2 linked regions of the Homo sapiens genome follow. The protein of the gene in region 1 purifies or fractionates together with the protein of each later gene. This does not show direct contact. Each region holds a gene or a part of one and is shown on either strand. Other genes may lie near its edges.

What was found.
Region 2: the proteins of SAMD4A (region 1) and GAN purify together in Homo sapiens (affinity purification with mass spectrometry; 2 studies listed by BioGRID and IntAct, with this or other methods). This does not show direct contact.

Annotation. Positions count from the first base shown.
Region 1 is NC_000014.9:54,562,325-54,570,170, reverse strand, and holds the start of SAMD4A (protein Smaug homolog 1), read right to left. Parts: upstream 3,044-7,846; 5' UTR 2,833-3,043; intron 2,676-2,832; 5' UTR 2,255-2,675; coding exon 2,059-2,254; intron 1-2,058. UniProt on the Homo sapiens protein: Acts as a translational repressor of SRE-containing messengers.
Region 2 is NC_000016.10:81,387,724-81,391,363, reverse strand, and holds the end of GAN (gigaxonin), read right to left. Parts: 3' UTR 555-3,640; downstream 1-554. UniProt on the Homo sapiens protein: Probable cytoskeletal component that directly or indirectly plays an important role in neurofilament architecture.

The sequences.
Region 1 (7,846 bases):
TGCAAAGATTTCCATGCAGGCAAAACGTCTAGGCGAAGGATTAATCCAGAAACTGGAGACCAGTTCCTATCTTACACAATGGTTCTATATTTTGTATATCTACATCATTTAGCAGCATGAACAGGTGGGTATCTTATACAAATAAGTATGGCCAAACATGTCTTAAGGGAAAAAAAATGCCAAGTGACTTCAAAAAATTCACAGTTCAATTTTTTAAATTATGAGATTTTTAAAATTAGGCCACCTTATTTTAACATTTAACTGTTTTACTTACTAACCTGGTGGCTGCTCTATTGGGAAAAGTCATCTCCATTACTCAAAGGGAAAAAGTGCTGCTCCAACATTTGAATAACCTAAAGATGAGTTTGAACAGTCCCTACCAGCACTGAAATCAAGCATTCAACCTAAATGACTCTGCGTAAATCCTCTGCAATCTATAAAATGCAAAAGTTTATATAACCTTGTTTGTCAAACCTGAGAAAGTAAAACCGAGCAGGTAAACCAGGCTTCCCGCTGAAATTAAGGAAGGAAGCAAAGAGGGTGGATCATCAGTTACCCAATTATGCTTCCACACCCCAGTGAAGGAGGCTGGCCCTCCAGCTATTTATAAACGTGGAGCTCAACCAAAGGGGGCCCTGTCATCGCCACCCCAGTGAGTCCTGGTGTGAGCTGGGAGGCTCGGGCTCAATGGAATCTCCCTCAATGTGGCCCTCCATACTTGGCCATGCAGGATCTTTCGGGTGCAGTCCTGTCTGGTCAGGAAAAGAACTGTGAAGATTTCCAGCGGTCACTTCCACCCTATGATTCTATATATGGAAGCATCCCATTCTAGTGTTTTCACCATCGTGCACACCATACTAGGGAGGAGGAATGAGTAGGCCGGCTCGCTTCTTGCTGCTCTGAAGGCACACTCACTTTAGTGTCTCCCAGGCCCCACTGCCCTGGACTGGACCTTGTCATCAAATGGCAGCCCAGACCTCTGCTGAGCTTTGCAGGCTCGCAGCTCCAACATGGAACAGCTGGAAGAGGACCCTGCATTCTTTTCTCTGCATAAACACTGGGGACTCTGTTCACCCTCCTGCAGCAGCATGAACTAAAGAATTTCCCCCTATCCAAAATCACAACCATCAGACTTTCCCCCCATCCCCCAGCCTCCTCCTACCCTCCAGGATATAATTTCAGTCTGTCACCACCCACGCTAGCAAATAGGAAACTGCTGGACCTTTCGACTATATTCACTTTCCATACTAGTTGAGGTGTCTGTAAATACTAGCAGGGTAATATGAAACGATTCTGTTCTATTCAGTAAAGTTTCCTAACGAAAAGCATTAAGTAACCCACTTCATGCCTGTCCTTTCTCCAAGACCCTTTTTTTCTACAAGATCCGTATCAATATGGATAATGTCACGAGCAGTAAGCTTAACCGCATTATATATATATATATATATATATATATATATATATATATATATATATATATGCTGCAAATGTCATTTTACTAGTCTCTAGCGTCACCTGCATATTATTCTGAAGACGAAGCTCTAAAACCAGAATATCTGTGGGGAAAAATGAATAATAAAATTGGATTTTCATGTACTCCTCACACAGCCTTATCCAAGCTTGGCTTCTGAAGGGCAGTCCCGGGCATCTATCATGTGTTGCTGAAATCCAGCGAGCCACGTTGCCCAAAAGAAGGAGGAGGAAGGAAAAAACACACACACCCAGAAAATCCAGACTCTACGTGACCTGACTTACTTATTTCCCAGGAAACTGCATGAGAGAAAAATCAATCATTCATGCTACCGTAGCTACCACACGGAAAGGGCTGACGGAGTTCACAGTGGGCAAAATCCCAAAGCGGCCGGCGGAGGTAAGTAGGTGGGGGGCGGTAGTGGGGGGACACCCGGAGGGGGTGGATTCCGAGGGCCTCGGGGCCACGCCGTCCAGGTCCCGGCGCGGCTGGCAGGGACTGGCCTCGGCCTGGCCCGAGGCAGAGAAGCGGAGGGAGGAGCGGGGGTTGGGCAGGCGGGACGGCGGCGGCGGCCGCCGCACACTTACCGGGGCTGTTGGCCTCGCGTTCGAGGACGTGCAGCTCGGCGCAGTCGGCCAGCGAGTGCTCCAGGCAGAGCTGGAGGAAGCGGGCCTGGGTCTGGCTCACGCGCTTGAGCAGCGACAGCAGCGCAACAGTCTGCTCGCACTCGTTCCAGCCCTTAAACCAGCCCGCCAGCACCCCGACCTGGTCGCGAAACATCATGGTTAGGGGGCCGCCCTCGGTCTACAGAGCCCCCTGGGCGCCCCAGCCCGCCCCGCCCGCCCCAAAGTTTGGCGGAGCCGCAGCCCCGCGGCCGGAGACGCGTTCCTGTTCCAAGGTGGCTCTGGTGCCCGGACGCTGCAGGTACTGCCTGGGCTCCTGCCTCTCTTGTCTGGTTTCAGTTACGTTCCGGTGGTTCTGGCTGATTTCCCCAGAGACGATGACAGACAGTAGCACGGAAATGTTTCTTTAAAAAAAAAAACGACTTTTTAAAAATCCCCCACAAGGCACACAACTGAATGAAGAATGCTTTCTCCCCCCTTCTTGCAGCTTTGGGATGGTGATTTCCGGCGTCCTGGGGTCTCCTCCCCGCTGGGCGGCAACTCGGACCCTTCACGCCCGCATTCCCGAGCGGCGATCACCACTGGAAGGAGAGAAAGAGCTGCAGTGAGACCTCGGCTAGCGGAGGAGCGCGCCCTGGGGGGACGAGGGCATCAGAGGGTGCTGGGGCCAGGGGAGGGGGCGTCCCGCGGAAGGTTGGGTTCGCCGAAATCCAGCCGCCCCCTCCGCCCCCTCCGCACCCGATGTGGGAGATGGGCTATTCCCCACCGGGTAACAGCGAGAAGCCTGCTTCCCAGGTGCGGGAGGAGACCCCGCGGCTTCCTGTTGCTGCCGCTGCCAACGGCTGGTGCTCCCCTCACGGCCCGCCTGGGGTGGCCTCGGGCGCCGTGCTTAAGAACGCCAGCACCAGCAACAGATCTTCCCCGCGCAGAAAACTTGCAATGCGGCTGCGAAGGGGCGCGGGGGTGGGGGTGGGAGCTAATGCAAAGCAGAGGCGGAGGCAGCGGCAGCCCGAGTTCCTTCCTCCTCCTCTTACTCCTCCTCCTCCTCCCAGAGAAGCAGCCGAGCGGCTGCAGCTCCATCTACAGCAACAGCCAGCATCTCCACCGCCAGGCGCCCCTCTGGATTTAGGCCGTGAGCAGCCGCGGCAGCAGCTCGAGACAAAAATAAACTCTCTCCACCCAAAGCTCCGCGCCCAGCGGGCGGCGGCGCAACCCAGAGCCCCGGCTCCCCCGCGCCGCGCCGCACCAGCCCACCCGGGAGGTCTCCCTGGGCCTGCTCCGGCCGGAGCGGTCACTGTGCGCGCGCGTGTGCGTGTGTGTGTGCGCGCGTGTGTGGCAGGCATCCTGCCGCCGCCGCCTACGGGCTGGTCTGTCCGGCCCGGAGCCTCGCCCGCGCGTCGCAGGCCGAGGGCGGCACAGCGCTGGGCACACGCCCCGCGAGGGGACGGCCGGGGTCCGCAGCGCTGCTCCCTTCGGCCAGCGGGGCGGCCCCGCGGGGAATGCGGATCGGCGCCGCAGGCACACGCCCCCCAACGACAGCAAAGAAAGTTCGGCTGCGGGGGTTCCCCCAGTCCCATCCCGGTTCTCGTGGCCGCCGCCGGCGGGGAGGAGAACCCAGCGACTCAGCCTTCAAGGAGCCGCTAGCTTCCAACAACACGCTGCTTCCGGCTCCCAGAACTTCTCGGGCGGAGGGGGAAGCCCCCGGGGAGGGGACCCCCAGTGACCCGCGGGTCCCCCGCCGAGGGCCGTAGGGAGGGAGCGCTCACCTCGGCGCGGCTCATCCCGGCGGCTCGGGGGCCCTTGCGCGGGTCCGGGGCCGCGGCGGCTCTCAGCGGGGTTGGGGGCGCCCGGAGCGCCGGCCGCGGGCCATGCCGTCGGGGCGGGCGGCGCGGGGAGAGTGCGGTGCTTCGAGTCGGGGCCGCTGCAGCCGCCGCTGCTGCTGCCTCCAGTGTCGGCTCGCGGAGGACTGAGCCGCCCGAGCCGGAGCTCCCCACATGCTACTGATTAACATACACCATTACATCATGGGCTTGGCAGGGAGCGCCCGAGCGGGGGGAGAGGAACCCGGGCGGCGGCGACGGCACGCGGGGGGAGCCGGGGGGAGGAACCCCGGACCCGGCGCAGGGCGGGGGGACGGATTCCTAAGTGGGGACCAGAAAAAGGGGAGGGGAGCGGAGTGGGAGGAGCTGGTGGCGCAGAGGGGTCGGGTAGAAGGAACCTCCGAGAGGAACGAAGAAGTTCGGGGAAGAGGACGGGTCCGGGTGAATTTCTTCCTGCGGCCGCCTGCGTGTTCTGGAGGGGTCGGGACACTCAAGCCACTGGAGCCCCGGCAGAAAGGGACCCGAGGGCGCTCGGGCGGGGGCGGTGCTGCCACCCGCTGCTTGTCCTTGGGAATGTGGTTCGTCCGCTCGGCTGACCCTCGGCCCTTCTGGGGCCCCGGGGTGGCCGAGGTGTTTGGCCCCCGGGCGGTGAGACCCGAGGTCACTGCCGCACTTGCTGGGATGGGTTCCGGGGGTCGTGGAGGCGAAGGGTTCACGAGGCTGAGGGGCAGTGCGCAGGGTTGGACCTGCCCAGGCGCTAGGTTCCGTGCCGCCCTAGTCCAAGGGCCTGGCCCGGGTCGGGTGCCGGATGCCCTTTGCTCTGGCGCAGGCTCCTAGAGGCCGGCCCGGCGCCTGGCTGAGTCCCACTCTTCCCCGGGGAGGTGGCCGAACTCCTGAGACCGGTCGGGGGAGCTGTGCCTGGCGCGCGGGCTGCGGCTTCTGGCCTGGAGCGGAGGCGAGCGCCGCCCTGGGCGACAAAGAGGCGGGGCGAGGCCACCTGTCAGCGCTTAGGCGTCGCCAGGCCTCGCAACCTTCACCTGGATCTGGAGAGTGCGCAGGGCCGCGGCCACACCGGGGCTTCAGGTCCTTGCCGCGCGAGAGGCGAGGAGGGCGCAGCGCAGAGGCTGAGTGGCGCAGGGTGGGCTGCGAAAGTGCCTCTGCTAGTCTTGAAAGTAAAGGTTTGGTTAAAAATACCCTAAACCCTAAAAACCTCTGTACCTCCTGATATGGGTTGAATATTCGCAAGAAGGACTGGATGACTAAATCTGGGCTATCTCCGTGATTTCAGAGGAAACACTGCTCCCTCCAGCAACTTGAGGCTTTGTTTATACGGGAGTAATTCTGAGAAGGCAGTGAAACGCGTGTTTCAGACCCAGCCTTTCCTACTCCTGCTAATCCACTGTTTTGAAGAGAAAGTATCTGAGATATTATTCCACTAATTAACACTTTTGTTTTCCAACTCCGGCATATGTCCCTGGAATTTAAATGCTTTCTTCCCTTCCTCCTCAAATTTAGTTTCTGCAGCGTATAGTTCGTTTCAGACACGTGATAGCACCTAACCATCTGTTAGGGTTTTTGAAAGGTCTTGTCGAGGTCGAGCTGCAAAAATGTGGATTTTTTAAAAGTTAATTATTAACCAGACAGGTGAGGTATCCGCTTAATTTAATGAATATTTTGCCCTATTTAGAAAACAGGAAACCTGAAGTCAGTGTTTTATTTTTGTTTTGTTTTGTTACTGTAGAGGCAGAAAGGCTTGATAGATTTTCTCCAAGAGATTACTATGAATTAGCTAATTCTTAGTAATAACTTATATCAGGAAATAGGGAGGATTAGAGAGTATGGTCTACTTCGGTATATACCTTGCTATAAATTGTAGGCAAAGCAGATGTCGTTCTAGGGCTTTTGGAAGCTCCCAAGAGTGAATTTTTTTTAAAAGAAAGTGAAAAAACCAGAAATTTCATTAACATGTATTTTCACCTGCAGCTTACTAAAGGTATAGTAAAACTAAAAACAAAACAACAAAAAAAAAAAACAAAACTTAAGCTGGTGAATGAAAATACTGCCATCTACTGGAAAAGTGTAGTTCTTACACCAGCCTTTGACCTAGGAAAAGACATTGATTTATCTCATTTTTGAATTCTTACTGTTCAGGACACTCTAAGACATATAAAGTTGAGCATGACATGAGCTGTCAGTACTCTTGTATTTGTGTGTTAACAATTCCTTTCCTCTGGGCAAAGGAAAGGGAGTATAAATAAAACCCAGGGATGTGGCCTCACTCTTCCCCAGAGTGAAGTCATCACTCTAAAGGAAAAAAAAAATACATTCATTAAATATAAGGTATTGTATTAAGTGTGGATTTTTCCTATGTCAACCTGGACCCAGTATTATTGATAAATAAGAAGTGCCTAACACTTACTATATAGTCACATCACTTGAAAAATGAATGAAAATATCCTTTCATTAGAAGAGATATTACTATGTCTATGTTCACTGTATTCCTATTTATTCATTTGAAAAATACTTATTGTGTCACCTTGTGCCAGGCACTGGGTTAGGCAATAAGTACCCTGAGTATTCTGAGTACCAAGTACAGGCACTGAATACACGATGGGGTACTAACCAAGAGATACTTTATATGAATAAAACACAGATCAGATTATCATGAATTAACATTCCCAACATTATTTTGCTTTTCTCCTCCTTAGAATCTGGGAAGGGAAGAAATTGTTTTCTGAGTGAATAATACTTTTGATCAAATAATTAAAATGTTCAGATGTTCCAAAGATTACTAATTCTAGATAAATCATTGACATATTTATAAATCACTGTTTAAGAGGATGCCTGGGTATTATTTGCATAAATAAGAAATCCCAGAGATTTCATGTTTATTTTAAATTTATATTTCTTCTAGAATAATCTAAAACAAAAGAAATGCATTAGATATAAAAACAGAGCTGTAAGCTTTAATTATTTGCTTTATAAATGAGCAAAAGTATTAAAATCTCTACATAAAGGTAAATGACAATGGATAATTGCCATTCATTTAATCATTTGATAAATATATATTGAATACTTGTTCTGGGCCAAGTCCTCAAGATAAAATATTAAGACATTTGGTATTTTTTATCTAACACAAAAGCCCATATAGCAAACATATATATGATTATATTATATAGCAAGAAAATATATAAATAAAATTTCATATATTCATTACACATTTTAAATGCATATATATGCCATAGGAAAATGTGTGAAAAGATTTACACCAAAATGGTAACTAATGGTGATCTTCTCTGCATGATAGGATTTCTGAGTATTGTTGTCTTGTTTCTCCATATTTTCTAACTTTTCTACTGTGAGTAAGAAAACTAAAACCAAAACACTACGTGAGTTCAGGCCTACTGTCTAAAACTTAATTTTAAAAGAAACTAAAGAAACTCTACTATAAAATTTAGGTCTATAACTCCCAAGAATTGTTTGAGCCTGTATCACTTCCTACCTAGGTCTTATCCTAGACTCAGTAGTGGGTCTCCCTTCCTCACTTCTGATCTCTCCACTCTCTAGCTCAGACATTTTCTGTGGTTTCTGAATAGACACTGAATACATTCCAGACTATTTGGGCTGGCATACAAAGACTCCAGGATTCGGCCACTGTCTGCCCTTCTGCACGTCTCTTCTACATTTCATTCACTGATTCATTCACAGAAAGTATTTGTTGAGTATAAATCACTGTGCTAGGCAATTAGAAGAGACAAAGGTAGAAGAAGAACCATGCTCTCTTCAACCTCCAGTGTGTAGCATAAATTATGTTCTTGGCACGTGCGTGCACACACCCACACTTCACAAAAACGTACAATGTGAAGTGGGTCTGAGGGGAGGCAACACAGTGTTGAGAGAGATAAGAAGAGGTAGCAATTCTGCTAGAAAAT
Region 2 (3,640 bases), on another chromosome or scaffold:
ACCCCTTGCCTTCAGTGGAGATCTGTATTTGAATTATCTTTTTCAAGTACTACCAATCTTTGTAGGTTTATTGTCTCTGGACAGCGCAGTAAGAGGGAACTAGAGAAATCTGCTTTCTGCAGATGGAATTCTGCCTCATATTACCAAGCCCTTAATATCAAGGTCCTCTAGTCCTCCGAAATCTATTTTCTCTCTGTCTTCTGAGGAAAGCCAATTTGAAACCATTTTTCAGGGAAGACAGCAAGGAGACTTATGCTGACGGCGATGGAGAGGCTCAGGCAGTCAGCCATGGAAAGACTCAGGCAGTCAGCCATGGAGAGACTCAGGCAGTCAGCGATGGAGAGACTCAGGCAGTCAGCGATGGAAGAGGCTCAGGCAGTGACTGGGGTGTGGCTGCTAAGGGACGGATCTAACATCACAAGCCACGGTCTAGGAGCTGACACCCACACCGTGTAAATGACAGAAACGACAACGTTTCATTCTTAAATCAAATCAAGCTGTATTGATAATGATGATTTAGCAGGAACCACTCTAAAAATCAGAAACAATTAGAATGCCTTCCCCATCAAATTATTTTATTAGGTTAATTAAACAGCTTAAAGATGATTCCTTTTGTGTGGTACCCTTCTAGAAAATATTTCAAGTTTTTAAGTGAACTTCCAATACATAAAACAAAATTACTTTAGCATACACAAATTTCAGATCAAAATACAACACTCTGTTTCTGTTTTCTTACAGTTATAAAATCCAGTCAATACAAACTACATAAAAAAGATAAAACACTTTCACTGATCCTTGGTACAAGAGAACAGCATGATGGCAAAATGTTCCCCAAGCACAGGTCCTGGGTTCGTGAGAAGGGACCAACCCCACAATATACTGAAGCATGTAAACAAAGTGCGTGCTACTTAATTTAGGTTAACAAATCCTTTTTGCATCAGTATTACTTGTAAACCATAAAGCAACTTTTAAAAAGAAAGGTTATTAATTAAAAATTACTTCTGACTGCTAAATTTCTTATCAGCAAGTGAACAGAAAATTATTCCACAAAACAAACTAGTACCTTTGGACCACAGGATGTGAGACGTGACATTTCAATGAAATCAACTTAGCACGACTTCTCTACTATCCTACTGAACTTGGGGAGTACAATTTTACAAGTTGCAGCCTTCTAGCACTTCCAATATTTTGAACTTTCTAAACCTGCCTATTTAGCTATGATTTTCATTGCAAATCCCTGTTTTTCAGTAGTAGGACTTTATTAAAGATAGGATAATATCACACACAATACAATCTTCACTGAATATGTGTCTAAGCAGACCTACTTGGAATTCTACTAGATAATAAAGTTGCAGGATTTAAAAGAAATACTATTCTGCAGGTCCCATGTCAGAAAACACAGATATGTTCAACAGATTGGTGTGGTATTTATATGGTATTCGTGGCATTTTCCTTATAGTATTCAAAGCATCAAAATGACAAATCAAGACTGTTAAAAACCAGTCTTGGACAAGGGTGACAGTCACATACTCGAGGGTCCAGCACAACACTGGCATGAGCCAACAGGAGCCACGCCGGCCACCTGCTGGGCCAGGGACCACTGCAAAGAGCAGCCCTGAATTTGGGAGGGTCAAATCGAATTTACAAATCTTGTTTTCAGGAATTTCCTTGATAGTTCTCTTTCATGGCAGAAGACCTATACCCGTGATGGAAAACAAAAGAATGTACACATTTCTAGTGTGTCATGAATGGGTCTCACTCACAGATAGGTACAGACATCACTGTCACTGCTAACACACAATGAAGTCTGCCTACGCCTACCTGAGGAGCATCCGCGATACCGTTTCTGATGAGGACAGGACTCTGCGGAGGTGGGCAGAGCAGGGGGTGCTTTTGTCAGCTCTGCTGGTCACTTCCAGGCTGCTGGTACACACCCCAACAGTGGCTGCAAAGATTGTTCAAAACTTCTGCTGAGGCCACAATGATTACGGGATGGTTGTCACAATTCACAAAAGGTATGATACAAAAAACAAAGGGTATCACCATTACGTCGCCGGCGAACTGAAGGGGTACAAGACCGAGGAACCAAACACAAGCTGAATTCAAAACGAAAAGAACCCCAGTGGCAGAAAAAGCCACGAATTATTTAATGAAGCAAGTTGTGCTAATAAACAGCCTGTGCTTTTCTTAACTGAAGGTCACTTGATACATTTCCCAACACACAATTTTTATTCAGATTATCTTTGTTTTCATGGAGAGCCTGAATTTTGAGGTACGATCTAGGAAAAAGATGTTATCACCCACACAAATGGAAGGCTCACTTCTTTACTTCTTAAGCTGATGATACCCTTTTGCCCGCCCCATGTACCAGATCCTACATGATTTTTTAAAATAAAACATAAGTCAATTTCAATGAGCATATGCTAGACTAACAATAAATTTATTTTTTGGAGTTTCTTTTGAAGCACAAATTCCTTTTAAAAAAAATATGAAAAGGTGGTCTCTCCTGGAAACAAGCAGTTCTAGTTTCCGATCCCACAACGATTTGGAACATAGTGTGTTTTTAAGTCAGAGCTGAAGAGGAAAGAAGGAAACAAGGGCTGCGCTCCGCTCTGGCGAATGCGAGCTGCAAAGGGACAGAGGAGGACCCACACGGAGGGTCCCCACCCGGCTCTGCGGACAGACATGGCAGAGGGCCTGTCACACAAGAGGCCACCGGGCCGAGCACGTCCGGGAGCCTGGGGCTGCACTGGGTGCTGAGGTAGTGAGCGGGGCCTGTGCCTGCCTGCCCTCCCGGCTTGGAGGGGGAGCCCTGAGGGCCTCTGGGGCTGGCCTGGAAGGTGTCATTCTAGCCTACAGGTGCCTAAGGCGCTGGGATGTGTCCTTGGCGGTGCCTCAGAAGGCACCTGGGTCCAAGTTCTGACCTGGAGCCTTGGGGACAGATCTGACTCTCACAGCCAGGGCCAGCTGGTTGTGGAAAGTGCTAGTATGCAGGTCTGCTCAGGGATCTGTGAGGCTCATGCTCTGGCCATTATGTGGTCTGAAGAACCAGAAGGGCTATTCTCCTCGCCCCCAACAACCCGCCCCAACTGCACCTTTCTTTTCCTTTTTATTTTGGATACATAATTCAAGCAGTAAAAAAACCAGGCTGGAAGAGGGTTGGGACAGAGGAGCAGAGGGCAGGGTGGGAAAGCTATCCCAAGAAGAGTGAGTAAAAACAACGACTCCGAACATGGCCAAAATACCCTTCCTCCACCTTGACGGCAATCCCTAAGCTGGCAGAGAAAGATGCGCCGACTGCGAAGTGCCTGTTTTCTCAGAGATTCCACCTAGCAGTGTCCATGGGGAGCCACAGTGGAACATGGAGAGAACAATCAAGGCTGGTTCAAACGAAAGGTTATTCACCAGTGAAAGAAACGGGGAGAAGACACAGCCGGCTAGCTCTGAAGACATGGTGTGCATCCCAGCCTATAAATCTCTAATGATCTTGATCCCGTGTTTCCCCTATTTCTGAGCAGACCTTTTTTTTTAATTTTTTATTTTTTTGTGAGACAGAGTCCCCCTCTGTCGCCCAGGCTGGAGTACAGTGGCACAATCCTGGCTCACTTCAACCTCTGCCTCCTGGGGTCAAGTGATTCTC